4 linked regions of the Homo sapiens genome follow. The protein of the gene in region 4 interacts with the protein of the main gene of each other region in a biochemical or structural test. Each region holds a gene or a part of one and is shown on either strand. Other genes may lie near its edges.

Region 1 (7,022 bases), on a different chromosome or scaffold from region 4:
TGTTGTTGAGACTGGGTCTCACCCAGTCACGCAGGATGGAGTGCAGTGACAGGACCTCCAGAGCTCAAGTGATCTTCCCACCCCAGCCTCCCTGAGTAGCTGGGACAACAGGCATGCATTAGCATGCCTGGCTAATTTTTAAAATTTTTTTGTAGAGAAAGGTTCTCTTTACGTTGCCCAGTCTGGTCTTAACTCCTGTGTTCAAGTGGTCCTCCCACCTTGGCCTCCTAAAGTGTTGGGATTACAGGTGTAAGCTACTGTGCTCTGGCTAAAAATTTTAAGTATAATGCTAAAAATTTGGAATTTTATGTTGGTAGAAATAGATACAGGGCTGGGCTCAGTGCCTCACACCTGTAATCTCAACAGTTTGGGAGGCTGAGGCGGGTGAATCGCTTGAGCTCAGGAGTTTGAGACCAGCCTGGGCAACATGGTGATATCCCGTCTTTACCAAAAGGAAGGAAAAAAAAAAGAAATAGATGCAGATTTTTCGACAGGGAAATGATGTGAGTACATATGTGTTTTAGAAAATTGCTGTGTACTGCAGGACAAAGATAGGTATCAAAAAACAAAAAAAGAAAGATTGCTCTGGTGATGAGCGAAAGGATGAGGGACTAGCTATTGCAGAAGTCTAGTTGAGAAATGACAAAGCCTGACCTTGGAGAGAGGTTGTGGGGATGATCAAAGGATTGGATTTAGCTTTTTACTAGTGCAATATTGTTGCCATATTTCTAGATGAGGATTTTTTTTTAGAGCTAATCTGGGTAAAGGGCTCCTTTTCTGTCAAAAGAACCCATTAGCAAGTCTGAATAATATTGCCAGGTTATATATGTTATGTATAGTATGAGAGTGAATTGTTCATTAGCATCTTTGAGAAATTAGAAAGAACTATGTCAGGTGTAATTTGGAAGAGAACTTGAAGTTTGTTATTGTTACTATTTTTGAGATGGAGTCTTGCTCGGCCATGCAGGCTGGAGTGCAGTGATGTGATCTCGGCTCACTGCAACCTCCACCTCCCGGGTTCAAGCGATTCGTGTGCCTCAGCCTCCCAAGTAGCTGCCTCCCAAGTAGCTGGAATTAGAGGTGCATGCCACCAAGCCTGGCTAATTTAGAACTTGGAGTTTGGACTGAAATTTATGCCTCTAAAAAGTATTGATCTAGGCTTGTTGGGAGTGTTTTTCTCTCAGCCTGTAGAAACTTGCTCATTGAGTTTTAGAGTTGGGAGAAGTTACAGAGATTATCTAGTCCATAATGGCAAATATATTTTGGTTTATTGGCCAGCTCTAATTGGAAGCTGCCAGAAGCACTGTGTTTGGAAGGATTCTGGTTGTAGGTGCTCTGAGAAATTGTATTATGGTTGATCAATGATGTCTCCTGTGGACAGTTACCTAGTAGGTAGTAGACATGTGCCAAATATATGCTATTCTTAGATAAGTCCAATCTCTTAGTTTTCTGTTTTGTTGTTGTTTGTTTGTTTTAAAGGTTAAATAATTTACCTGAAACTAGTTAAGAGTAAGAACTAGAACTAGAACTGGGTTTTGCAACTCTGGGACTGGTATTCTCTGGTTTACAAAGATCAATGTGCACTACTGAAGAGCTTCTGGTATTAGACTAGAAAAAGAAAAGGGAGATTTTTAGCCTATGCGTCTTGACTGTTTAGGCAAGAGTTTAACAAGGAATTTTGGCCTAGAAGTAAGTTTTGTTATATTCATTCTGTCTTAAGAAATTTGTGTTAGGGCCGGGCGCGGTGGCTCATGCCTGTAATCCCAGCATTTTGGGAGGCTGAAGCGGGCAGATCACGAGGTCAGGAGATCGAGATCATCCTGGCCAACGTGGTGAAACCCCCATCTCTACTAAAATACAAAAAATTAGCTGGGTGTGGTGGCATGCACCTGTAGTACCAGCTACTTGGGAGGCTGAGGCAGGAGAACCACTTGAACCTGGGAGGCGGAGGTTGCAGTGAGCTGAGATTGTGCCACTGCACTCCAGCCTGGCAACAAGAATGAGACTCTGTCTCAAAAGAAAAAAAAAAAAAAATTCGTGTTAGTACTGATAGGAAATAGTCATCTGTTTTGTTGTTTTGCCACTTTCTTTCTTGTTGCCTAAGTCTCTGTTTTGGGTTTTGGACATTGGTTTCCTTTATAAGAATTAAGACAAAAGTATGTAAGGTTTTTTTTTTTGTATTTATAGTACTTAGCCAAATTCTGGGCTCATAATAAGCACTCAGTAAAGGCATGTTGACTTTTATGGCTGTAAATGATACTGGCTTTGAGTCAATATAAATTAGTTAGGGGGTTCACAGAATTGAATTGCAGCATTCTCTGGTTGGGAGGTTGGCTTTCAGCTAAAAACGTTAAGTTGGAAACTATCCTCACAACTAGAAGCAGTTAACCAGAAGCTGTTCCTGCCTCTATCCTCCTCCAGTCTAGCAGTGTACTGTCCTTGAAAAACTGCTGCCAGCTCAGCTTTTTTGCTTCTTTTCAGAACTGACTATATCCAGATCCTTGGTGTGCGTTTTCTTTTCCTGTCCCTAGGAGTCTCCAAGTTGCAGGGACTATCATTATGGTGACCCTTATAGGCTGGTGTATTTATATGGCCATCCTCATTTTGCCAGATAGCCGTCATACTCAGATTGGTGTCTTCCCATAATACGTATGAATCATTTTCCCTCAGTTCTTTCTTTTGTCCTGTCTGCTCCATTAAAAATTGTCTATCCCATGAAATTTTTAAAAGAGACTTTGTGCTTTTAGAGTCGCAAGGTCGTTGCAGATCTGATGTGTTTAACTATAGAGGTCAGCTGGGTGTGGTGGCTCACGCCTGTAATCCCAGCACTTTGGGAGGCTGAGGTGGGTGGATCACGAGGTCAGGAGTTCAAGACCAGCCTGACCAATATGGTGAAACCCCATCTCTACTAAAAATACGAAAGTTAGCCAGGCGTGGGGGTGCACGCCCGTAGTGTAGTCCCAGCTACTCAGGAGGCTGAGGCAGAAGAATCGCTTGAACCCAGGAGGCGAAGGTTGGAGTGAGCCAATATCATGCCACTGCACTCTAGCCTGGCGACAGAGCAAGACTCCATCTCAAAAACAAACAAACAAAAAAATATAGAAGTAATGTGTTAATGGACTCTCCTTCCTTTCTCAGGTACCATGCATTTCACGGTGGCCTTGTGGAGACAACGCCTTAACCCAAGGAAGTGACTCAAACTGTGAGAACTTCAGGTATGGTGTCATCCTGTGAGAGAAATTGGGGGCAAGAGTGATGCAGAGGCCAAGCTCTGGTCTTATACCTGCTGTGAGGAGAGAGCAGTGTTGATGCTAGCTGCATCAGTTGGTTGAACATATAGGCAGCTTCACTTGGTTCTGAAACCCAAAGCTGCCTCTGCAGGGATTAGCCTGTGAGCCACACTGTGCTCTTAATTTGGGTTTTCTGACTTTTCTGTTTTTGTAGATCCCTTATACATATGCATACTTTTTCTATTTGTGTTGTTTTATACACGTTTATCTCTGTATACTATCTAGACATGTGCATGTGTAGGATTAAGAGGTGGGTAATGAAAAAGAAGACAACATGGCCAGGTGCAGTGGCTCATGCCTGTAATTCCAGCACTTTGTGGGGCGAAGGTGGGAGGATCACTTGAACCCAAGAGTTTGGGACCAGCCTGGACAACATGGCGAGACCCTGACTCCACACAAAATAAAAAAAAATCAGCTGGTGTGGTGGCGTGTACCTGTAATCCTAGCTGATTGGGAGGGTGACATGGGAGGATCACTTGAGCCAGGAGGTTGAGGCTGCAGTAAGCCATGATCACGCCACTGCACTCCAGCCTGGGTGACAGAGTGAGACCCTGTCTCGGAAAAAAAAAAAAAAAAAGACAACATGGTTCAGTGCAGAAAGAATAGAGGACTTGGAAAGAAAAGATCTGGGTTCCGATTTGATTTTGCCACTGACAAGCTGTGTGACTTTCGGCGAGTTATTTAATCTTGCCAGACCTCAGTTTATACATCTGTAAAATAGGTAAGTATTGATTCCTGTCTCCATCCCTGGCATTGTTGTGTGGATCAAATAAAATAATACCTATTAAATCTTTAGAAAAGGAAATGAATTCATGACTTAAAATGTTATCTTGGCCAGGCACGGTGGCTCATACCTGTAATCCCAGCACTTTGTTTGGGAGGCCAAGGTGGGCGGATCACTTGAGGTCAGGAGTTTGAAACCAGTCTGGTCAACATGGTGAAACTCCATCTCTACTAAGAATACAAAAATTAGCAGGGTGTGATGTCATGTGCCTGTATTCCCAGTTACTTGGGTGGCTGAGGCAGGAGAATCATTTGAACCCAGGAGGTGGACACTGCAGTAAGCCAAGATCGTGCCACTATACTCCAGCCTGGGCAACAGAGTGAGAGTCTGTCTCAAAAAAAAAAAAAAGAAAAGAAATGTTATCTAGATCCACAAGGTGAGAGAAGTTGAGAGTAGTATTGTGAAGGAAAACATGAGGACAAGACAGATCACTTTAAAAGGTCAGGAGAGAAGGAAGACTACTGGGTAAGAAAAAAAAAGTAGAACATAAAGTTAAGCAGTAAGAGAATAGGGAGTGAATGAAGTTGAGCAGGTGAATTGTTAGATAAGAAAGCTGAGGCTGGGCGCGGTGGCTCACGCCTGTAATTCCAGCACTTTGGGAGGCCGAGGCGGGTGGATCACGAGGTCAGGAGATCGAGACCATCCTGGCTAACAAGGTGAAACCCCGTCTCTACTAAAAGTACAAAAAATTAGCCGGGTGTGGTGGCGGGCGCCTGTAGTCCCAGCTACTCAGGAGGCTGAGGCAGGAGAATGGTGTGAACCTGGGAGGCAGAGCTTGCAGTGAGCCGAGATCACACCACTGCACTCCAGCCTGGGCAACAGAGCCAGACTCCGTCTCAAAAAAAAAAAAAAAAAAACTGAATAGGAAGATACTGGTAAAATAGAACTAAAATATGATCCAGCATTGCCACTTTTGGGTATATATCCAAAGGAAATAAAATCACTTCTTCTTTTTTTTTTTTTTTTTTTTTTTGAGATGGAGCCTTCCCCAGGCTAGAGTGCAATGGCACGATCTTGGCTCACTGCAGCTTCTGCCCCCTGGGTTCAAGTGATTCTCTTGTCTCAGCCTCCTGAGTAGCTGGGACTCGGGAGGCCAGGCGTGCACCCACCACACCTGGCTAATTTTGTATTTTCAGTAGAGACGGGGTTTCACCACATTGGCCAGGCTGCTCTTGAACTCCTGACCTCAGGTGATCTGCCCGCCTCTGCCTCCCAAAGTGCTGGGATTATAGGCGTGAGCCACTGAGCCCGGTCCTGTTCTTTTTTATAATCAAGAGAAAGGAAGGAGATGGTGGAATGATTTGTGATAGCTACTATAAAGCAATTTAAAAAATATTTAAAAGTATTATTAAAGTATTTAAAATATCTTTAAAATATTTCTCAGCATATCCATTTCATCTCAAGCTCACAAAGCAGTTCTTTGTGGAAAGGTATTTGAGCCAACATTCAGGAAACCTGCGTTCTACCATTGGTATTACTGGTCACTTAAATTCTGTGATCTTGGGCAGCTCACTTAAATCTCCCTGGGCCTGGTTTCCTCACTTATCTATTGAATGTTTTGAATATGATTTCTCAGGTTCTTTCCAGCTCACTCTATTATATTCTGTGCTTTATGTGCTAACTCACTGATTTTTCATGGCTTTGTTGACATCACAATATATGACTGATATCAGAAATATCTTATAATAAGGCTTCGGCCGGCCGCGGTGGCTCATCCCTGTAATCCTAGCACTTTGGGAGGCTGAGGCGGGCGGATCACGAGGTCAGAAGATCGAGACCATCCTGACTAACATGGTGAAACCCCGTCTCTACTAAAAATACAAAAATTAGCTGGGCGTGGTGGCGGGCGCCTGTAGTCCCAGCTACTCGGGAGGCTGAGGCAGGAGAATGGTGTGAACCTGGGAGGCGGAGCTTGCAGTGAGCCGAGTTCACGCCACTGCACTCCAGCCTGGGCGACAGAGTGACAGAGGGATACTTTGTCTCAAAAAAAAAAAAAAAAGGCTTCATAATGTCTGATGCTTTATAAATGAGAAACCATGTTATTTTAAGTTCTACTTTTTTTTTTTTTTGAGAGGGAATCTAACTCTGTCACCCAGGCTGGAGTGCAGTGGCGCAATCTCAGCTCACTGCAACCTCCGCCTCTCGGGTTCAAGCAATTCTCCTGCCTCAGCCTCCTGAGTAGCTGGGATTACAGGCACCCGCCACCATGCCTGGCTAATTTTTTGTATTTTTAGTAGAGATGGGGTTTCACCGTGCTAGCCAGGATGGTCTCGATCTCCTGACCTCGTGATCTGCCTGCCTCAGCCTCTCAATGTGCTGGGATTACAGGCATGAGCCACCGTACCCGGCCTTTTAAGTTCTACTTTAAACATTGGCACTGAGAGACCTGTAGGAAACGTAAGTATAGAAAGTTTAAGTTTGTAATATTTGACAAGGATCTGTTGAGCTGCTATTGTGCTAGGTTCCAAGGGGTACTCAAATATAAAACTCCTGGTTTAAGGATTTTGTCAGGAAAACAGACTTCCTTGCCAGTGATTGATTATTATAAAAAGGAAGTTGGTAAATGTTACAAGAGTTTCATTGCATTGCAATTTAAGAAATTAAGTTCAGATTTTTTGGTTCCTTTAACATGATTGAATGTATTCCTTTTTTTTTTTTTTTTGAGACGGAGTTTTTCTCTTGTTGCCGAGGCTGGAGTGCAATGGTGCAATCTCAGCTTACTGCAGCCTCCACCCACTGGGTTCAAGCGATTCTCCTGCCTGAGTCTCCCAAGTAGCTGGGATTATAGGCATGTGCCACCACGCCCAGCTAATTTTGTATTTTTACTAGAGATAGGGTTTCACTGTGTTGGTGAGGCTGATCTTGAACTCCTGACCTCAAATAATCCACCTGCCTCGACCTCCCAAAGTTCTGGATTACAGGCATAAGCCACTGCACCTGGCCAAATG
Region 2 (7,218 bases), on a different chromosome or scaffold from region 4:
CGCACAGGCTGGGTGGGCACAGCTGTGAGGGAGGCCACCCCATGCCTCAGGCCTCCTGCACAGGCGTGGGCCTCGCCACTCTGGGTGGACAGGCTACTTTGGCCCCTCAGCCTCTGGGGACTGCTGCCCTGTTTTCAGCACCGTGTCAGGCACCATCTGGTCAGCCAGCTCCTCCAGCCCCGAGACTCCCGTGTCCTCATTCTCCTGGGCCGTTACGGTCGGCCAGTGCCCAGCCTTTGCTGGAAGGCTGTCCAGGCTGGGCTCTGGTCAGGCATCGATGTCCCCCAGGCACCTGGCCTCACCTCGCGTTGGGACAGCCTCTGCAAGATGGAACAGGAAGGGTCTGGCTTTGCCTCTGTCACCTTCTCCCGGTCCATCATGTCCTCCTGGCCAGCCCGTTCCTGGTTCCTGCGGGGAGCCCAGCCCGAAGGGGAACCGAAAGATTCTAACTTAACTCTAGTTCAGCCTCCCGGATCCTCCTGTGGAGCGGCAGGATCCCATAAAAGATACTTGGCTCAGCAACTTGCTGGCCAAGCCTCCCCACAGCGGTCCACACAGGCCAGAGGTAAACATGCCCATGCCCCACACCTGGAAGGCCTGGTGCAAGGAGGGGTGATTGTAGTGACTGAAATGGGAACTCTGGCTTTATGGCGCGGAGAGAGAAGACATGGACCCAAGAGCTGCAGGGTGGGGACAACCGACGCGCTCTTTGTCCCCTGGATGTGGTGCCACAGCCTGAATCCAATAGCACGGGCCGCTGACGCGCTGACCTGGGGCTGGGTTAGTCGCTCGTCCCCCTTGCTCTGAAATGGAGAGTGCACGTGACCACGGCCAGTCCTGGACAATCCTGCCATGCCAGAGCCACCAGCTGGAACACACGGACACAACCTCTTTTCCATCTGACTGGTACAAGGTATGTGCTTCTCCTAGCTCCAGAGGGCCTTGGGTGATGCCACCTATGGTGATCAAGGTGGCAACTACCCATGTGGCTTTGACTGAATCAGGCTTGTTCATTTTTTAAAATAGCTTTATTGATATAGACATCATGCTGTAAGACTTCTCCCGTTTAAAGTGTTCAATTCAATGGTGTTCAGTTTAGTTACAGAGTTGTGCCACTGTCACCATCATCCAGTTTAGAACTTTTTTGTTTTGTTTTGTTTTTTTGAGATGGAGTCTTGCTCTGTTGCCCAGGCTGGAGTGCAGTGACACTACCTTGGCTCACTGCAACCTCTGCCTTCCAAGTTCAAGCAATTCTCCTGCCTCAGCCTCCTGAGTAGCTGGGATTATAGGCATGTGCCACTACGCCCGGCTAATTTTTGTATTTTTAGTAGAGACGGAGTTTCACCATGTTGGACCAGGCTGGTCTCGAACACCTGACCTCAGGTGATCCACCTGCCTTGGCCTCCCAAAGTGCTGGGATTACAGGCGTGAACCACTGCGCCTGGCCCCAAGTTTAGGACATTTTCATCACCCTAAAAAGCAAATGGGGATGCCCCTCAGCAGTCCCCCCCATTACCCCTCCCTCCAGCCCCTGGTGACCGCTAATCTAGTTTCTGTCTCTGTGGATTTGCCTGTTCTGTACATTTCATAGAAATGGAACCTATTCAATGCACGGCCTTTGTGTCTGGCTTTTTTTACTGAGCATAACATTTCCAAGGCTTGTCCATTTTGTAATGTGTATCAGCGCTTCTTTCTTTTTTACTCCTGAATAGAGTCCATTGTATAGTCTAATACATTCTAATGTATCCATTGTTTGGATATATGACATTTTGTTTATCCATTCATGAGTTGATGGACAATTGGCTTTTTCCCTCTTTTTGGCTATTATGAATAATGTTGCTATGAACGTTCATGTCTAAGTTTTTGTGGACATTTGTCTTCATTTCTCTGAGGTGTACACCTAAGAGTGGAGTTGCTGTTTGACCTTTTGAGGAAACAACAGACTGTTTTCCAAAGTGACTGCACCATTTTCCATTCCCGCTGGCAGTGTACCAGCGTTCCCCGCTCACGTCCCCCACAACCCGCTGTGACTGTTGGGCTTTTTATTGCAGCCAGCACAGTAGGTGTGACGTCGTATCACTGAGGGGTCAGTTTGCATTTCCCTAATGATTCGTGATGCTGAGCTTATCTGACACTGATTATCTTCATTGGAGGAATGTCTGTTCAGTCCTCTCACTATCTTGGTAGTGTCCTTTCAGACATAAAAGTTTTAAATTTTGGTGAAATCCAATTTACATATGTTCTCCCTTTGTTGCTTGTGCTTTTGTGGCTACATTACTTGATGGAGGACGGGAGCTGCCCGGCCTCCTGGGTCGTTAGAAAGGAAACCTCTTGGCGGACACGGTGGTCCACTCCTGTAATTCCAGCACTTTGCGAGGCCGAGACCGGTGGATCACTTGAGGTCAGGAGTTCGAGAACAGCCTGGCCAACATGGCAAAACTCCCGACTCTACTAAAAAACTACAAATATTAGCCGGGCATGGTGGTAAGCACCCGTAGTTCCAGCTACTCAGGAGGCTGAGGCAGGAGAATCGCTTGAACCCGGGAGGCGCAAGCTATGATGAGCCGGGATGACACCACTGCACTCCAGCCTGGGTGACAGCGAGACAAGAAAGAAAGGAAAGAAGAGAAGGTGAAGGAGAAGGAAGGAAGGAAATAAACCTCTTTTCTGTCTGAGCCATTTCATTTTGGGCCTGTCTGTCCCAGAGGTTTAACTACACTAGTATAGAGCATCGTTTACTAAAGGTTTGTTGAGGTTTGTTGTTGATTTGTTTCTACTTACACGAGATGTCTTCATTTTTACCCTCGGTCTTGAAATAAAATTTTGGTGCATGTTCATTTTTGGTTTGAATTGAATTATTTTCTTGAACATAGTGAGGCAGGAGAACAGGGTCTGGAGGCCAATTCATGCTGACTCCCTAGAACTAAATCAAATGGAAACACTTCCGCTATGACAAGAAGTGTCCTCTCCATTTACACAGGGCGTACACCAAGTAACCAATGGAAACCTCTAGAGGGTATTTAACCCCCCCAAAAAATCTGTAACGGGGCTCTTGAGCCGCTATGCTCAGCCGCTCCCACAGTGTGGAGTTATTTTCGTTGTCTTTTCTTGTTTCTTTTTTGAGACGAAGTCTGGCTCTATCGCCCAGGCTGGAGGGCAGTGGTGCGATCTCGGCTCACTGCAACCTCCGCCTCCCGGATTCAAGCAATTCTCCTGCGTCAGCCTCCCGAGTAGCTAAGACCACAGGCGTGCACCACCACGCCCGGCTAATTTTTGTGTTTTTAGTAGAGAGGGGGGTTTCACCATGTTGCCCAGGCTGGTCTCAAACTCCTGACGTCAGGTGATCTGCCCGCCTTGGCCTCCCAAAGTGCTGGGATTACAGGCCTGAGCCACCGCGCCCGGCCACACTTTTGTTTTCCATAAATCTCGCTTTTGTTGCTTCCTTCTTTCCGTGCTTTGTTTGTGCGTTTTGTCCAGTTCTTTGTTCAAGACGTCAAGAACCTGGACACCCTCCACCGGTCACAATAGCAGTTTCGCTTTCCATTCCATTTTATCCAGGGTGGTTTTATCTCCACCCTGGCGTTTGCAGAATCCGGGCAAGTACACAAATGGATGCTCCACAATACTTGTCTAGATATTTAAAAGGTATAAATAAAATAACTTAAATGAATGAAATTTTTATTATTTAAATCTGTTGAAGTCTTGTGTGCATGAAAATAAAACTCCTCCTAATGTGGCGTTCAGTGCCCACGCCGCTGCCACCGTGCCTGGCCCTGCGCCTGGGCGCGCTGTGTCCGCTGCTACAGACGCCGGCGGGCAGGCGGGCAGGCGGGCAGGCGGGCAGGCGGGCAGGCGGGCAGGCGGGCAGGCGGGCGGGGGGAGGCGGCGCAGAGCCCGGCAGGCGCCGCCGTTGCCTCCGCCTCCGCGCGGTCTCCCCGGGGCCAGCTGGGACCCCGAGGGCTGGGGCGGGGGCGGGGGCGCGGGCGACTGCGGCGGGGCCTGGAGGGCGCTGGTCCCAGCCCAGGGCGGGGTCCCGGGGACGCCCCTCGGCCTTAGATCCGCGAGCGGCAGCTCGGGCCTGGGGGCGGGGCCTGGCGGAGAGCGACCCGCTCACTCTGCCCGGGCTGATCTCGCGAGGGCCGCCTGGTCTCGCGGCGCTGGCCTGTGGGCGGAGCGAGCCCTGAAAGGCTATAGGCGAGGGGGCGGCTCCGCGGGGCCGGGCGAGGAGTCCAGAGAGCCATGGCCGCCCTGCGTGTCCTGCTGTCCTGCGTCCGCGGCCCGCTGAGGCCCCCGGTTCGCTGTCCCGCCTGGCGTCCCTTCGCCTCGGGTGAGTGCGCGGTGAGAGCTGGCGGCCCGAATCTCCTCCTGACTCCGACCTGCACGCCCAGACCAGATCCCAGACCGCACCCCCCTCCCACCTGACCCCGCATCCCCCACCTGACCCCAACCCACACCCCTCTTCCGCCTGACCCCGCACCCTCACCTGACCCCTACCCGCACCCCACTCCGCCTGACCCCGCACCCCCCCGCCTGACCCCGCACCCCCCCACCTGACCCCGCACCCTCCGGCCTGACCCCTACCCGCACCCCACTCCGCCTGACCCCGCACCCCCCCACCTGACCCCGCACCCCCCGGCCTGACCCCGCACCCCTCTTCCGTCCGATCCCGCATCCCCAGGGCCTGACTCCGCACTCTCCTGCCTGACCCCGCACCTACCACCTGACCCCGACCCGCAGCCCCTGCCTGGCTCAGGCCTGCAACACCCCCCTCGCCTAGTGCTGCACCCCCCACCTGACCCGCACCCACAGCCTGACCCAGGCTTAACACCCCCCCACCACCCGCCACCCCGCACCGACACCACCCACCTGACCCTGGCCCGCACCCCCACCCCCTGCCTGGCTCTGCAGGAGGCCACTCTCACCAGGCCACGTCCTGCGGGAGGCCCGGCGGCTGGCTGGTACTGCCCCAGTGCCAAGACCTCTGGCCAACTGGGCGCAGGGTGGGGGTTGTAAAAATCCGGGGTGTTCCCTCGGCTCTAAGAGCAGGCGTAGCTCCTGTGCAGCCGGCCAGCCCGAGAACAGGAGATGCAGGTGCATTTTGTCCTGGGTGCCTCCTGACCAGGGCCACCCCTCAGAGGGTCCTAAGGGAAAAGCTGACACCTCCTCCCCAGCCACAGGGGGCTGCCCTCTTCCTCCCTCGTGGCTCACCCGGGGCCCCACTCATGAGCGGCCATCACCGGCTCTAGTATCTGAGGAATCTTGGGCCATGCCTTGGGCTGGGGAAGAACTCTTGCTTCCTCTTCCTCCCTCACCCTGTGTAGCAGTGGACCACTGAGTTGTGTTGGTTTCATCTCCATGCTCTCCTTGGCCTTCGGCTTCTCCACCCTGACAGCAGCCCTTTCCTGGATCTTGCATGGCGGGCACTGCTGCCAGACACTTCACCTGTGATCTTCCAGTTACCCCTAGAAACCCACAGGATACGGCGGGGCACAGTGGCTAATGCCTATAATCCCAGCACTTTGGGAGGCTGAGGCAGGTGGATCACCTGAGGTCATCAAGACCACCTTGGCCAACATGGTGAAACCCCATGTCTACTAAAAATACAAAAATTAGCCAGGTGTGGTGGTGTGTGACCGTAGTCCCAGCTACTCGGGAGGCTGAGGCAGGAGAATCACCTGAACCCTGTAGGCAGAGGTCGCAGTGAGCCAAGATTGCGCCACTGCACTCCAGCCTGGGCAATAGAGTGAGACTCGGTCTCCAAAAAAAAGAAACCCATAGCACAGGGACTATGATCCCTGCTCTGCCACTAACGGAGGCAAGCATCCAACACACAGGCTACCTTTGTCTTTTCAGGTTCACCTTCTCACCCCTGGAACGCCATTGTCCTTTGTCTCCTTCCCACCTTGCTGTCCACCCAGCAGGCGCAGGTCCTGTGCAGCAGGCCAACCGAGAAGCGCCTGCGTCTCCCATTTTCGGGCTGGCCTGCTGCTCCGGACCTGTGCCTGATCTTAATGCTGCAGGAACACCCAGGATTTTCACATCCCCCACCCTGCGTCCAGTTGGCCAGAGGTCTTGGCACTGGGGCGGTACCAAGTGCAAGGAGCTGCCTTACACCCCCTCACCTGTTGGCATTTGTTGAAAGAAGGTGTTTCCTGGTGCCTTGTCTCAGCAGAGTCCAGGGCTGTCTCCAGAGTGGTGTCCTGGGAAGAGCTGACCAAGGCATATTAGGAGAAGGAAAGCGGCTGTGGGCTGTGTTCTGTGCTGGGGATTTTTCTTTTTTTCTTTTCTTTTTTTTTGAGACGGAGTCTCACTCTGTCACCCAGGCTGGAGTGCAGTGGCATGATCTCAGCTCACTGCAAGCTCCACCTCCTGGGTTCATGCCACTCTCCTGCCTCAGCCTCCCCAGTAGCTGGGACTACAGGCGCCCGCCACAACACCCGACTAATTTTTTGTATTTTAGGTAGAGACGGCGTTTCACCGTGTTAGCCAGGATGGTCTCGATCTCCTGACCTTGTGATTCGACCGCTTCGGCCTCCCAAATTGCTGGGATTACAGGCGTGAGCCACCGCGCCCGGCCCGGGGATTTTCTTTAGGACATGTTCAAACACATGTGAAAGCAGAGAGAATGGTACCAAGGCTACCATCTATCCTTGTGGCTGAGAGCTACACCTGGAGCCACTGAGGACTCGGCAGGGAGCCCTCAGAGGGCCTCTTGGGGTCACACTGTATCCACCGATGGGGCCACATCCCTTCCCCCACTCTCCCCAGTTTGATACCTGTGTGAATAGATACCCCTTTTTGCCTTCTTGCTCCAGGTGCTAACTTTGAGTACATCATCGCAGAAAAAAGAGGGAAGAATAACACCGTGGGGTTGATCCAACTGAACCGCCCCAAGGCCCTCAATGCACTTTGCGATGGCCTGATTGACGAGCTCAACCAGGCCCTGAAGACCTTCGAGGAGGACCCGGCCGTGGGGGCCATTGTCCTCACCGGCGGGGATAAGGCCTTTGCAGGTACGCGCGGCAGCAGAGGCCTTTGTGTCTGGGCAGATGTGGGAGGCACGTATGGCCTTGGGAGAAGCCTCCAGACAGATTTGCGCCTCTGTGATGGCAGAGGCATGCGACTGGGGACTTCCTCAAATATCGAGTGAAGACGGTCATGGGAACGGCTTGCATGAGCAGCTTTGTGTATGCCAGAGAGCTGCATGTGCTCCACCAG
Region 3 (7,022 bases), on a different chromosome or scaffold from region 4:
CAGGCATAGTGGCTCACGCCTGTAATCCCAGCACTTTAGGGAGACCGAGGCGGGTGGATTGTTTGAGTCCAGGAGTTCGAGACCAGCCTAGGCAACATGGTGAAACCCTGTCTCTACAAAAAAAAAAAAAATACAAAAAATTAGCCAGGCGTGGTGGCACATGCCTGGATTCCAGGAACCTGGGAGGCTGAGGTGGGAGGATGGCTGGAGCCTGGGAGGTCAAGGCTGCAATGAGATGCAACAGAGCAAGACTCTGTCTCAAAAAAGAAAACCAATGTTATGGTTTGTAGGGTGTTTCTTAACCCTTGCCTGGCATGGCCTTAGGTCCTGTTTATAATTTGGTATCTTACTGCCACAAAGAGTCCGATCTGTCAGTCTTATGATCTCTGTTTTAATGTTAATGCCGGTCAGTTGTGTCCAAACTCCAGCAGGAAGAGGGCCTAATAAGGCAAGTCCACCCTGCCTTCCTGTCATGGCCCAGAATTCTGTTTTTAAGGTTTTTCTGGTGTCCCTTGGCCAAGAGGGGATCTATTCAGTTGGTCCGGGGACTCAAGATTTTAGTTTCAGTTTACAACTCTATACACAAACACCCCATACACACAGGCACCAATACCCTATGCACAGACACCACACAAATGCATACTACACACTTACACATACCACACACACGCATACCATGCAAGCATATCATACACACAGACACCCCATACAATGCGTACACATGCACACACACACAGGCTGCCTCAAATTGAGAAGGGTTCCTTGGACTTTCAGTTCAGTAAATCCCAACGTTTGAACATTGGTGCTAACTTAGGACCAGCCCCAGGCCTGTTGCATGGCACTGTATGTGTGAAAGTGCGTGTTTGCACCAGTGTGAGTGCAGGGCTGTGTCTGGGAAGAGGTGTGCTACACATGAGGAAGCAGCCAGAGCAGCTTGGTGGTCATTGTTGTGCCCCTACCTGCAGGGCTGGTTCTCAACCGGAACCTCTCCATCTCGGAGAACCGCACCATGCAGCTGGCGGTGCTGGTCAATGACTCAGACTTCCAGGGCCCAGGAGCGGGCGTCCTCTTGCTCCACTTCAACGTGTCGGTGCTGCCGGTCAGCCTGCACCTGCCCAGTACCTACTCCCTCTCCGTGAGCAGGAGGGCTCGCCGATTTGCCCAGGTGAGCCCATACCTATTGCCTGTCTGGGGAAGATTGAAAGGCCAAGGGACATGGGGGCACAGGGAGGCAGGTGACACTGCCTCTTGGCCCAACCAGCACAGAGTAGACTGGGTGGAGTCCTGAGCCCAGGGCCAGGAGGTACAGCTGTGTGCACAGAAGAGGCCTGGGAGAGCTCACAGTGGGCAGGGCTGGGGGCTCCTTGGGCCTCTCTTTTTTTCCCCTTTCCATTCTTGGTATCTTTAAAATGTATTTTCAAAAATGCAAGAGCAATACTGGGTAAATCTGCATATGGTGACTCGGAAGAATCTTCCTGGTGGATTGGTGAGAGTGGCTTGCAGAGATGTTGGTCCCACGTGACTCCCTTTGTGCAAAAGCAGATCTTCCCTGACAGGGATCTGCAAGTGTGCAGAGATCACAGTGCTGTCCACAGTGGTGCCCTCAGGGGGAGGCAGGAAACGCTTCCACTTTTTACTTTTTGTAACTAGGTTTGCTAGAAAGCGTATATTTATATTTGTCTTTGGAAAATAATGATTAGAAATAGAAGGCATAAAAGTAATAAATATTCATTAAAGAAGATGAGGCATGAGGCATGAGGCGTGATCCCTTCTACCCATAGGCGCCAGTGTTGCACATCGTGGTGTTCTTTCTGGGATGTTTCTCGTAAGCACTTATTAAGTTGACTTGAAACTGCAGCACGCATGTTCTCGCATGCCGCTCTCCCTTGCAGAGCAGCCCGTGGCGCCTCCTCTTCAGGGGCCATCTGCCAGTTCTTTCGGGTGGTTCTGTGCCCGCATCAGCTCCTGGCAGCCACCCGTGTCCAGCCCACGAGGGAGCCCACCCTTGGACATATCTAAGCTCCCCGACCACCTCCTTGGCCTTTAATGGGAGTGGGATCAGAGACAGAGGGGCGACAAGACAGAGGGCCCCGGGGGGTCTCATGGGGGGCGGGGCAAGAGCAGGCATTGCTGAAGTTGGGTCACCTGCCCTCTGTCAGGAGCAACGGGGGCCTGAATCCCAGTCCAGCCTCAGCCTCACTGTGGTCTCACCTTTCTCCCCAGTTTGTAAAGCTGTGAATTAGGGACAGGAACCCTGAACAATTTTGAGAGTCACATGAGCATTTGGAAGTGGGCTTTGTAGGGGAAAGTGAGGAGGCCCAGGAGGCTGGTTTTTGCTGTGGTCACTTGTGGGCCTGGGAGAGCCCAGCCCTGCTCTGGCCCGCCCCCATCTCGCCATCTGTGGAACTTTTGGTTTCAAGCAGCTGCAAGAGTTGCCAAGAGGTTGAAAGAATTCAGCTGCCTGACTCCAGGTCCTGGCATCCCCAGGAGAGGCCCCTCTTTCCCAGGGGCTCTGGTCAAAGTCCCAGAGCCTGGCATCCCCAGGAGAAGAGGCTCCTCTTTCCCAGAGGCTCTGCTCAAAGTCCCAGGGAGGCCCCCTGGTCCTGCATGGGCTGGGGCAACCATGCTCCCGAGTCTTGTGGCTGGGGTTCAGTGCTCTGACCAGGGGACACCAGGGCAGGGTGGACCTCTAAACCCTGTGCACTGAGGGAGGAGTGAGGGGTCCCCAGAGCACTGCTGGGGCAGCTGGGAGCAGCCAGGGAGGAGCCTGGGAGACATTCCGGCGGCTTTGTTGTCTGAGTGAGGGAGGAAAGGGGAGTAAAGGGTTGAGTCAGGGCCTGCCTGGGGCTTTTCCTGCCACCAAACTGAACCTCGAGGCCCTGGGTTGCCTTGACCTCCAGCTCCCAGGAACAGGGGCAGCTGGTAACATGTGGCCTGAGTGGAACGGGGCAGGGCAGGGCTGGGGCAGGTGGGTGGGTATGAAGGCTCTGAGGGGTGGAGGACAGGGTGCTCGGGGGGGCTGCTGTCTCCAGGCCCAGTTGGGGGCTGTTCCAGGACTTAGGCTGTGTGGGAATCTCTACCCTCAGGCCATTACAGGCCGGTCCAGCTGCCTGGCTAAGGTGTTCCCCTGTGCCCCCCTAGATCGGGAAAGTCTGTGTGGAAAACTGCCAGGCATTCAGTGGCATCAACGTCCAGTACAAGCTGCATTCCTCTGGTGCCAACTGCAGCACGCTAGGGGTGGTCACCTCAGCCGAGGACACCTCGGGGATCCTGTTTGTGAATGACACCAAGGCCCTGCGGCGGCCCAAGTGTGCCGAACTTCACTACATGGTGGTGGCCACCGACCAGCAGACCTCTAGGCAGGCCCAGGCCCAGCTGCTTGTAACAGTGGAGGGGTCATGTGAGTGCCTGCTCCAGGGAGGGAGGGTCGGGGTCCTGGGGGCTTCTGGAGCCTGGGCCTCCTGCCCTTTGAGAAAAGCAGTACAGCTGCAAGGCTTAGCTGGGGAGTGGGGAAGGCATGGACCAGCTTCACCCTGAGTGACCCAGCAGTAAATGGTTGCTCCTTCCAGATAACATACAGGACCTTGGGTAAATTTGAATTTTGGGTAAACAACAAGCAGTTTTTTGGTATAGGTGTGTTCCATGCAACTTTTGCAGCTTCTCGAAAGACACACCTCTAGGTCCATCCATGCCCTCTTAGGAACATGCTGACACAGCTGCCATTCATGCCATTCATTGTGTATCTGAAATGTAGGTCCCACAGGGCGTCGTTGGCTGAATCTGGCTGCACTCACATCCTTCCTCCTGTACTTACCCCAGCCCAGGTGACCCCTGCTTTGTGACCATGATGTCCTGTACCCTGCCCTGCGCCCTGTGCTCCTGGCACTGTCTTTGCTGCCCTGGGTCTGTCACTCCGGTCCCCTTGGGCTCCATCCGTGGGCAGCTCAGCTGGTGCTGTTCCCTGTCCTTGGGCACTAGCTGGACGCTGGGCCCAGGCCAGCCCCCTGTGACCCTGCTTGTCTGCCACCTGCAGATGTGGCCGAGGAGGCGGGCTGCCCCCTGTCCTGTGCAGTCAGCAAGAGACGGCTGGAGTGTGAGGAGTGTGGCGGCCTGGGCTCCCCAACAGGCAGGTGTGAGTGGAGGCAAGGAGATGGCAAAGGTAAGCCCTGGAAACGCCCAAGGGAGGCCTGCAGGGGCGATGGCACCGGTGGAAACGGGGTCCTGGGGCCCTGCCAGCCTGGGGTGGCTCTCCCTGCTCCAGGTCTGCTTCTGGCACCTCATCCCCCATGTGGCTCTCGATGCCAGCATAGCGGGCAGCAGTGCAGGGCTTGGGAGAGGGCTTGTGAGTACAGTGAATGGTCCCCAGGCCGGATTCACTCTGGACTTGGGAAGGTCTGAACCAAAGTTGGGATGTGCTGGGGACAGAATGGCGTTTTTCTGGGAGGTCCTCGGCCAGGGGATGTGGTGTGGGCAGGGGACTCATTGTCTGCATCAGCCAGAGGCCAGCCTGGGTGTGCCCACCACCATGAGGGGCCCTCACCATGCAGCCCTGAGAGGGTCCCGGCCTCTTTGCTGTAAGGGCCACCTGTGTGAGGAACCCCCCATACCTCCTCTCCCATAAGCCATGGCTCCCCAGGATGCTTCCGCTGGCAAGGCTCTGTATATGGTGTTTCCCTACTCAGGCCTCCAGTTGCTCCTCCCTAGAGGGGCAGGATCTGCCTAGGAGGTGGTGGGGGCGTGTGGCGGGGCTCCCACATGGGTGACAGCCTGCTGTGTGTCCTGTGCAGGGATCACCAGGAACTTCTCCACCTGCTCTCCCAGCACCAAGACCTGCCCCGACGGCCACTGCGATGTTGTGGAGACCCAAGACATCAACATTTGCCCTCAGGACTGCCTCCGTAAGCAGGGTTTAATCAGGGCATGGGAACAGGTAGGAGATAGTAGGGGAAACCTGGATCCCACAGGCACTTCAGCCAGAGTTGCCAGGGCTGTCAGTTCTATGCATCAAGCTGAGCCTCCTGTGCATTTCAGCATCACCCTAGCCATGGGGAGGGAGCAGGCAGGGTCAGGGACAGGGGGAAGGCAGGGACCCACAGACTGTCCAGGCCCCTGCTGAGGTCCCAGAAGTCGGCACACACAGATTTCAGAAGCAGAGAATGGTCAGTAGGGACACTGACAGGGAAAGTGCGGCCCTGAGCCAGACGAGGGACACTGCAATGTGCGGGTCAGGCCACCAGGCTCCAGTTTTGGAGGCAGAGTCCTTTGTTCAGATGAAATGTTAGGAGGGGGCCTGGCTTCACCCATGGCTTCAGAAAGGCACTGTGACCAAGCCCTGCCCGGCTAAGCCAAGCTGCTGGGCCCCTGGCCTCACTGGGCCTATGCTTGCGACACCAGTTGGGGAGGGGGCTCCTTGGGACACTGCCCTGGAAATATGGGCGCCTGGGGTGGTCAGGCGCCCCAGGAGGCTGAGTGGGCTACGTCTGCCCTCAGGGGGCAGCATTGTTGGGGGACACGAGCCTGGGGAGCCCCGGGGGATTAAAGCTGGCTATGGCACCTGCAACTGCTTCCCTGAGGAGGAGAAGTGCTTCTGCGAGCCCGAAGACATCCAGGGTGAGTGGGTGGCGGCCGGGACCACCACCACCTCCCAGCCCCACAGAGGTCTCAACAGCACATCTGAGGTCCCAACAAGGGAGGAAATTGCTGGGAGGCGAGTGGGCCCCATGAAACTTCCCTCCCTCCCTCTGGGCCTCTGTTACTCCACCCAGGAGAGGGGCCAGGGCCCCTGTAAAGTGTCTTCTGGCCATAAGTTCTATGATGGACAGGCCAGAAAAGCAGTTCTTCCACCAAACAACTTGTCAGCCTGACAAGTCACTGTCCCTGTGACCATGCAGCTGGGACCCACCCAGGAACACATTTCAAGGTCAGCAGGTATGGTGGGTTGCACAGCCACACTGACTACACTCAGGGGTGCTGTTCTGCCTGAGCATAGGGACACGTTTCTGTCATTGAGTTTTCTGGTATTATATAGCCCTACGTCCCTAGCCACTTAGCATTTTCATAAAGAAAATGCCAAAGACATTTGGAACAGAGGAAAATTTTGACCTCCCCTGCCAGCCCTCCAGTGCCAGCTGGTGTAATGAGCACAGCCTCTGCTGTGTGACCTTGGCAGGCTGCTCAGCCTCTCTGAGCCTCTGTCTCCATCTGTAAGAGGGCAATAGTGGTCTAGGAGGGGGCAGTAAATGGCAGTACCCATGCTCGATGGGGTGTTCTCAGGCCTTCCCACACCTCCATGGCCACTTCCCAGCTGGCGCGGACACGGCAGGCTGGAGAGCCATGAGGCAGAGCATACGCAGCCTGTACCCAGTGGTGCCGAGCCTCTGGCGGTGCCAAGCCTCACACCACCCCCACCCACAGATCCACTGTGCGACGAGCTGTGCCGCACGGTGATCGCAGCCGCTGTCCTCTTCTCCTTCATCGTCTCGGTGCTGCTGTCTGCCTTCTGCATCCACTGCTACCACAAGTTTGCCCACAAGCCACCCATCTCCTCAGCTGAGATGACCTTCCGGAGGCCCGCCCAGGCCTTCCCGGTCAGCTACTCCTCTTCCGGTGCCCGCCGGCCCTCGCTGGACTCCATGGAGAACCAGGTCTCCGTGGATGCCTTCAAGATCCTGGTGAGGGTCCCTGCGGGGCAGGGAAGATCCCCTGCCCTCCCCAGCTGCCTTCCAGGGAGGGAGGCCAGCTGGGGAGACAGAGGCCATCCTGTGAGGGGCTGCCAACGCTGGGCAGACGAGGCCTGTGTTCTGCCCCCATTTCCATAGGGCGCTGTGTGGGGACAGTCTGTGGGGTGGGACTGTGATGAGGTGCCGTTCCCATCTAGGTGAGAGGCAGTGGTCAGGGTCACAGCATCGGGCAGGGGAGCAGCAGTGTGGATGGAGGGGCACTGAAGTCAGAAGGGGGTGCCTTTCTGGGGAGCCTGGCCTGCAGGTCTGCATGTGCTACTCAGAGCCTCCAGGCTGTGCCGA
Region 4 (7,575 bases):
TTACCAGTGGAAGACTCTGCCCCTGGAGCAGTTTTAAAATTCTAGTTACTATTTTGGCTTATATTCTAAGGTAGAAGTTTTAAGATGAGGTAATTCAAATTTTGCTCAATCTTTGCCCTCAAACGGATCTTTGCTTCCTCCTGCTTCTTTTGGGTCCAGAGAGGTGCCAACAAGTGATGATTACAAGTTACATGTCTTCATTATACACCCTAAAGAGGGCATCAAGAGGTTTTCAGCAGTAATGATGGTTTAAATGATTTTTCAAAACCTCATCAATTTCCTTTTGCCAACTATTTATACCTGCATTAATGAATAAACCTAAACATTTAATGGAAAAGAAAATAGATGGGTGCGGTGGTTCACGCTTGTAATCCCAGCTCTTTGGGAGGCCGAGGAGAGTGGATCACTTGAGGTCAGGAGTTCGAGATCACCCTGGCCAATATGGTAAAAACCCATCTCTACTAAAATTACAAAAATTAGCTGGGCATGCTGGTGGGCGCCTGTAATCCCAGCTACTTGGGAGGCCGAGGCATGAGAATCACTTAAACTGGGGGAGGTGGAGGTTGCAGTGAGCCAAGATTGCACCACTGCACTCCAACCTGGGTGACAGAGCAAGACTCTAGAGAAAAGAAAAGAGAAGAACCTGTCATTCATTCTACAAATGTCTTATTGAGTTCTTTCTATGAAGAGGGAACTTCATGAGTTTGTGAAGCTGGTGGGGGAGCAGACAGCTAAGTAATTGCTATAAAGCTTCTGACAGCAGAGAAGCCCAGATATTTTAGGAGGCTTGGGAAGGACTGTCGATATCAGTTAGAAGTTAGAAGTCCCTTGCAAGCAAAGCATGCTAGACATGCTCATTCATATCACCTAGTTCCTTTTTGAAACAAAATCCTGGTCAAAATGGTTAGCCCATGATTCTAGAAATCTCTTGAGTGCTATTTGCATCCCTTACTAGCATTGGCTTTTGCCTATAAAATGTGTTTAATGGGTTTGGGGGCATCCAAATATCTTGGAGCTGCAGGCCAGAGAAATATGTTGTTCTCAATCCCAGATGAGCCCAAAAAGGGTGGAGGAGAGAAATGCTCCATGAGTCTGAAACCACAGGTAAGTTAGGGTTGTCCATTCCCCATCCAGTCACTCTACCACCATGCACGGGGTATCTCCCTGTACAGTTATGGGAATGAGGGCACAGCAATAAGCAAGACAGATCAGTCTCTGACCCCAAGAGCTCCAGTGGAGACCACAAGATAATTAAGGAGAAATTAAACAGATAAAGAAGGAGTACAGAATGGGGACTGCAGGGAGGCTGCAGAGTGAGGGATGTGAGAGGGAGCGTGGGTTTTCAGAGGGTGACCAGGGAAGACTTTCTGAGGCTGTGTGAAGAGTCAGGAGGCAGCAGTGCAGGGGACCAGTGCTGGACAGCAAGCTCAGCCAGTGTGGCCTGGGGCAATGGCCTGGTGGTCCGAGACAGCAGAGGCTGGATCAGCTGGGGGTGTGAGGAGAAGGAGGTCTCCTGGATTGCGTGCCAGTTGCAAGGAGAAGCTACTGAAGGACTCCATAAAGAGGACTGATATGGTCTGATTTACCCATTTAAACACACAGACACACACAGACGCACGCTGCTATATAGAGAATGGAGGAAGGGGGAACTGAAATCCTACAGTAAAGAGATGCTGGTACCCTGGACAAGGGGCAGGGTGGGGGGTGGGGGCATAAGAAAAAGGGGACAGATCAGGACACATTTTAGACATAGATTCAACAGACTGAATGTTTTTTATCTGAGGATCCGAGTTGACTGCGAGGTCACTGCCAGAGACATCGACTTTTGGGAGAGGGAAAGGTTTGGCTGACCGCAAAACCTCCTTTAGGAACAAATTAGGTGTGAGGTTAGTTTGTTATATTATTTTCTCTTTCAGGACATAGGCAAAGATGAAGAGAATCAAATCATAAAAGGCGTTTAATGTTAACATTTTCCAAAATTGTGCATGTTCTAGCTATCCCTTTAATGTCTGGGCATTTTGATACCCTGTGAGTGGCTGGCAAACTCTATCATTAGTGTACACGGTGAGAGGTTTGCTGAAAGCTATATGCCCCCGTTTCTCTACCTGTTGCAGGGGAAGTGTTCGTGGGAGAAAAACTTCGCGGCCTCATACTGTGAAGGGGTAGGTTGAGATGGCCACGGGGGTTCTCAGATTCTCCACCAGCGTCTCCTCGCTGACCCCGGCCTTCCTAGGCTTCCTTCCCGCGTCCCTGCCTGCCAGGAAGGTCCCCTGTAGCTTGCAGAGACCATGGTAGACAGAGCAGTTGTATCTGCGCCAGCCAGAGACCACCTGGGCAAGAAGCGTGACCCAGACATCGAGGAGGGTGAAGCCTCGCTGGGCCGCCCCGCAACCCCAGGAAGCCCCGGACCAGCGAGAGGCTCCCGGGCGGTCTCTTGCCGACACCCCGGCACGGGCTCACCCGCGCGCTCACACTCCGCCCGCTCCCCGCTAAGGGACTGGGTTCGCTCCAAAGGCAGAGGAAACCTATGGGCTCCCCGGCTCGTGTCTCCCGACTCGTGTCTCTTGCCTCCGCTTCCCAGCTTTCCCGACCCTGCCCGGACGGGGTTTCGGGGTTCCCTGCTCGGGCCCCGCGCGCTCCCCTCCCACAGGCTGGCTGGGCTCCGGGCGCGGCGGGAGGCAGCGGGGACGTGAGACCGGGGTCGCCCCACACGCCCTCCGCGCCCCTCGGGCCGCGGCCCCTGCGCAACGGCCCCCCGTGCCCGACCACGCGGCCGCCCGGAGCGCAGGGGCCCGCGGGCAGGCAGAGGCCGAGGCTCCCCGCGGGCGCCGGGCGCGGGCTCTGGGTTCCCCGGGCGGGGCCGGGAGGCAGCCAGGCCGCCGGGGGGCGCCGGCAGGAGCGGCGCTTACCTGAGGCGGCGGCGGGGCCGGGTGCGGGCGCTCCGGGACGCGGGGCCGGGCGGACACACTGGCGGGGCCGGGGCCTGGCCGTCCCACCGCCGTCTGCCCCCCGCGCCGGGGCCGGGCCCAGACGCACTTCCTCAATCCTGAGGCGGGCGGGCGGGGAGGGCGGCGCGAAGAGCGCGCAGAGCAAGGCCGCCGCCAGCTCTCCCAGGAACCGTCGCGAGGCGTCCCCTCGGCGGCCGCCTCAGTTTCCCTGGCCGTAAAACGCGGGCGATGGCGCTCGATGCCCCGGGAGACGCCGGGGTCCGCGGGCCCTTCCGGCACCGGGTCCTCCTTCAGGTTCGGGCACCCGGCTGCCTCCACGCGGGGCGAGCGCGGCGATGGGATCGGTCCGTGCTGCGCTCAGCCCCGCTTTCGCTATCCCTCTGCTCCAGGGGCAGCAAAATCAGCAGATGAGCCCCCAGCGCGCCTGCGGCCCACACACTGCGGCCGTAACAGTTAAACAGACGGGGAACATTCATGTGCGTAGAGCTCTTCACGGGGCGATACAGAAATGTGTCGTTCTAAAGCGTTAACGACCTGCAATTTGCATATCCTCCAACACATGGATTTTACTGATTCAATTATGGATGTGTGCAAAGAATCTGCTGCTCGGTGAGTCATTGTTAATTGTCGGCTTTGGGGGGAATACATAAAACGTGGAATATTGGCAATTTATCGTGTTTCGACCTTTTATAAAGGCGTCACCAGGCTGCTGAGGCTAATACAGAAACGCAGACCATAAAAAAGATCTGCGTCCACGCTGCAGGCGGGCCTCACGCTGAGCTCCCCGTGTCGACCCGGGGACAAAGCCTGCTCAGGAAGAGCAGAGGGTTCCACGCCCTGCAGGACCAGCGCCCTGGGCCCCTCTCCTGGAAAGTTATGACTCGCACGTTCCCAGGATTTAGCGCACATCTCCCCCACCCTCACTGCCATTTCACAGAACCGGGGCAGCCGCAGGGCTCCTGCAGGACCTCCCGGACGCCGCGGGGCCGTGTTCCCTTGAGCGGCTTCTTGGGTCCCTGGTTGGAGAGGGGACCACCGAGCAGCTTCGCTCTGCTCCTGGGAGGCTACTTCTGCCACTGGACGACTTTCCAAAAGGGTGAGCGCAGTTCTGCAATCCTGTTCTCACCCCTGAGGGCCTCACACCAGTTTGCAGGAGCCAGCAGTGTGATTGCCACCGACAAGTTCCCAACAATTTGCAGGGCGTGGTGTCCTCAGTGCTGAGAGAGCCCCGCGACGGCGGTGCAGCTCCTCCAGGGCGCGCAGCCCCGCCACCTGGCGCCACCGCGAGGGAGCGCAGGCCCAGGGCCCGGGCAGACGCTGGAGGGGACGCGGCAGGTGAAGATGGGGCACCTCCACTTCCCTTCTAAAGGAGCCTGGGAATAGGCTAGGAAATGTCCCCACTGTAGAAGACAGCAGGAACATCTGACACGCGGATAACCTGTGCTGAGCTCGTTATATTCCCAGCATTTAATTCTAGCCATTAGGCATGCGTTAGCCACAACTTCGCATAGGAAGGTTATTGCAGGTAAGTTAAGACTCCTTTCCACTTCTTCCTAAGGGTCGCTGACCCATGGTTCTCTAGCTTTTGCTGGTAATCCCACCCAGATTCTCAGCACCCTAGGTTGGAATGACCCCTCCTGAGGTGGGTGGGGTAGCTGGGAGGCACCTCCCTGAACTGACTTTTCTGCCTTTTTGAAGGTGCAGTGGCTGAGCGCTCCTTCAGTGTTTTCCGGTTGTCTTTCTTCAGCCCAGTACGCAGTTTCCTCAGACAGTCTTCCTTGAGCAACTTCCTAAACGCCCTTCATTATCCCCCTTCAAGCTCATGCCTAGGAGCAAGGAGCAAAGCCATTAGAAAGGCTTCATCCACCAGCAGGAGAAGCTAGGACATCCCAAAGGGTCCACTTCTAGAGAGGTGCCAACCCCCACACGCACACCAGGCACACAAATGCATGTGTGCACACGCATACCACACCCTCCAATTGTCCCCAGAATGGCTCCCTTCAGGGAGTCATGTTCCGGGACACCAAATGAGGGAAAATATCCTTCTCCTACAGTTTCCTGCTCACATTTGGATTGAGAAATGGGATGTCTCTAAATAATGTGTCTAAATTCTCTTAACATAAGTGCATATGTTACGAGAGATCTGATCCCAGCCTCCCTTTTTTGTTAAAGTGGTGGTGCTTTGCCACCCATGTCAAAATGATCTGGGCTTTCCACATCAAATGCAAGGGATGAGCTTGGAGGACATACCCCAGTACCAGCAATGATCTTGAGCCAATGGCAGCGTCAGCTCACAACGGGGTGATTGAGGCTTCTTGGTTAGAAGCTTTAGAAACTTGAGGTCAGTAAAACCCAAATTGATCCTTTCTCTAGATCCTCTAGATTTCTCTAGAGGAAAAGGTGACAAAAACAGACACTTGTGCTCACCGTCAGGGGCACAATGCTGTCCGTCAATCCTCATGCAGTCCTCCCCACCATTTCGCACACTGACACCATCACTACTTTATGATAAAAGGAGACTCAGGCAGCTTAGATAACAGCTGAAACTCAGCCAGCTATGACATGGAACCTCTGAGGCCCAGCTCCTTGCCTGGTCAACCCCCAAGCCCACAGAAATGGGTTTCACACTCAGGCAAAGCACTGGGCCCGACTGACTGAGCAAATGTAATTTTATGCTTACATTATTGATCCTGCTTTAATATCAGCCATTTCGTACAGGTCTCAGAAAGAGAAAGGCCTGCCATCGAATTCAAATGACTTTGGTCTTTAAATGAAAAAGCACAATGTTTCTCAAATATCCAATTTTATTTTATCATTCTCGCATTGTGGGATGCGATCTGCAGCTAGGATCGGAATTCCCAGGCCTATAGATTTTTAAACCACACCACAGGGGTAAACCTTAAAAGAAGTGAAACCTAACACTATATATATTTCCATTTCTAAATACAGTATATTACAGAAGTTTAAATATACCACCTCTGTGTACTTACAACTATAAAAAGATACAATAACTCTACCAATTATAAATAATGTAGCATTTCATATTAAAGACATTATCGTACAATGGAAGAATAGGAACCCTCTAACGTATCACTATCAAGGTTAGTGTCTATATCTACTTGAGATAAAATACTGAAAATTCAGTGTATGAAGCCAAATCCTGATTTAACAAGTTATTGGTAGTATAAGTGATAAGTGTTAGCTGATGAAGGGAAGGCAAATGTGGTAATTTATATCTCTGACAAGGGTGATAGGCCCATTTTATACATGGTTTTCGTTATACACACACTGGTTCTGTTACGGGCCCTCATTTTATTATTGCCCTCCCCAACTTAATTTGCAAACTTAAGCACTACTTTCCCAATTAGGAAAGTACTAGTTAGTAACCATAAAAGTATCCGTCGGATAACACATTTGTTTTTGTTTTTGAAGCTATATGGGAACACTTTCAGTTTCCCAAGTTAAAACATGAAATTGCACATCATCATTTGGATCCCCAAAGAGGAAAAGAAAAATTCACAACCTGCCAGTGAAATACTCAGGCCACTTGGATGAAGACCGAGGTCCTCCATAGAATCCAGGTGTTATTTACTAACTAATCAGAAATTAATATCAAAATAGGACTTAAAAATAACAAGGCTGTGTTATTACAGCAGTCTTTCCAGTTGTGTACGCTTTACTAATCTAAATTGGGTAACAGAACTGGAGAAAAGGAAGACTACACAGACTTATCATAAGCTGTTAGTGAACGTGATAGAAATGCGTAATTTGTTAAAGCGAATTACAGCTCTGATTTGTCAAATGAGGAGGTGAATTATCCTAGGATTTGCTATGCTGTTGTGGCGTTAGAAGATTGGATCTTTAGCAGCAAAGGTAACCTCAACAATATTTTCTGCTTAAGAAAGTGCCTTGGTTAAGGTAGACCGTGATATCGTCTTTGACTAAGCTCTCTGGGCTATTGATTCTGTCATATTCCAAAGGCAGTATTGGTTTGAAGCCGAATCTCACGGTCAATGTCAACATGCAATCCACAAAGACCCTGGCGCCCTTCCACGGTATGCACTAACCAAAACTTTCTCACTGTGAAATCCTTTTTTTAAAAACAAGAAAACAAAAAACAAAAACCAAAAAACCTTACTGTGAATCCTTTCCCAAGGAATGGTCCCACCTTCACCTCGGAAAGAGGCGTGGCTTGCTCTGTAAGCAGGTCCACCCTGAGGAGACCGCTGGTGCAAGAGCCCTGCTTGCAGAACACACAGGGGGTTTTCCCACATTCTTACTGGAGTCAGATTCGGCAAAGCATTTCAAGCAACTGCTGGACACTTCAAATACCACTCCCTGTTAACAACGCCCTGAGTATCTCACTGTCTCCAGGATCTGGTTTAAAGGGAAACACAGAAATGGCCAACAGCTCCCTCCCCAGGCAGGACTGCGATTTCACAGACAACCTATAGGCATCCCCAGTCTGGTGAATAAACAGGAGAGTGAGAGGAAAACAGCAATCATTCAACTCCAGTAGATGTAAAGCCTCCAGAAGAATGTGTCCCGGGAAGGTCAGAAATGTCATTTTTTTCCTCCAGCACATTTCATCTGCCACATTCCGCCGTCCGATGTTTGAGGAAGGAGC

The links.
Region 1: the proteins of LRRK1 (region 4) and ITCH form a complex in vitro, tested with the Homo sapiens proteins (2 studies listed by BioGRID and IntAct, with this or other methods).
Region 2: the proteins of LRRK1 (region 4) and ECHS1 form a complex in vitro, tested with the Homo sapiens proteins (2 studies listed by BioGRID and IntAct, with this or other methods).
Region 3: the proteins of LRRK1 (region 4) and RET form a complex in vitro, tested with the Homo sapiens proteins (2 studies listed by BioGRID and IntAct, with this or other methods).

Annotation. Positions count from the first base shown.
Region 1 is NC_000020.11:34,366,256-34,373,277, forward strand, and holds part of ITCH (E3 ubiquitin-protein ligase Itchy homolog), read left to right. Parts: intron 1-3,138; 5' UTR 3,139-3,215; intron 3,216-6,446; exon of another isoform or gene 6,447-6,471; intron 6,472-7,022. UniProt on the Homo sapiens protein: Acts as an Acts as an E3 ubiquitin-protein ligase which accepts ubiquitin from an E2 ubiquitin-conjugating enzyme in the form of a thioester and then directly transfers the ubiquitin to targeted substrates.
Region 2 is NC_000010.11:133,370,355-133,377,572, reverse strand, and holds the start of ECHS1 (enoyl-CoA hydratase, mitochondrial), read left to right. Parts: upstream 1-4,218; 5' UTR 4,219-4,239; coding exon 4,240-4,327; intron 4,328-5,909; exon of another isoform or gene 5,910-6,017; intron 6,018-6,815; coding exon 6,816-7,013; intron 7,014-7,218. UniProt on the Homo sapiens protein: Converts unsaturated trans-2-enoyl-CoA species ((2E)-enoyl-CoA) to the corresponding (3S)-3hydroxyacyl-CoA species through addition of a water molecule to the double bond.
Region 3 is NC_000010.11:43,108,066-43,115,087, forward strand, and holds part of RET (proto-oncogene tyrosine-protein kinase receptor Ret isoform a precursor), read left to right. Parts: intron 1-965; coding exon 966-1,165; intron 1,166-3,141; coding exon 3,142-3,400; intron 3,401-4,033; coding exon 4,034-4,159; intron 4,160-4,787; coding exon 4,788-4,898; intron 4,899-5,490; coding exon 5,491-5,610; intron 5,611-6,414; coding exon 6,415-6,671; intron 6,672-7,022. UniProt on the Homo sapiens protein: Receptor tyrosine-protein kinase involved in numerous cellular mechanisms including cell proliferation, neuronal navigation, cell migration, and cell differentiation in response to glia cell line-derived growth family factors (GDNF, NRTN, ARTN, PSPN and GDF15).
Region 4 is NC_000015.10:100,914,786-100,922,360, reverse strand, and holds the start of LRRK1 (leucine-rich repeat serine/threonine-protein kinase 1), read right to left. Parts: upstream 3,005-7,575; 5' UTR 2,910-3,004; intron 1-2,909.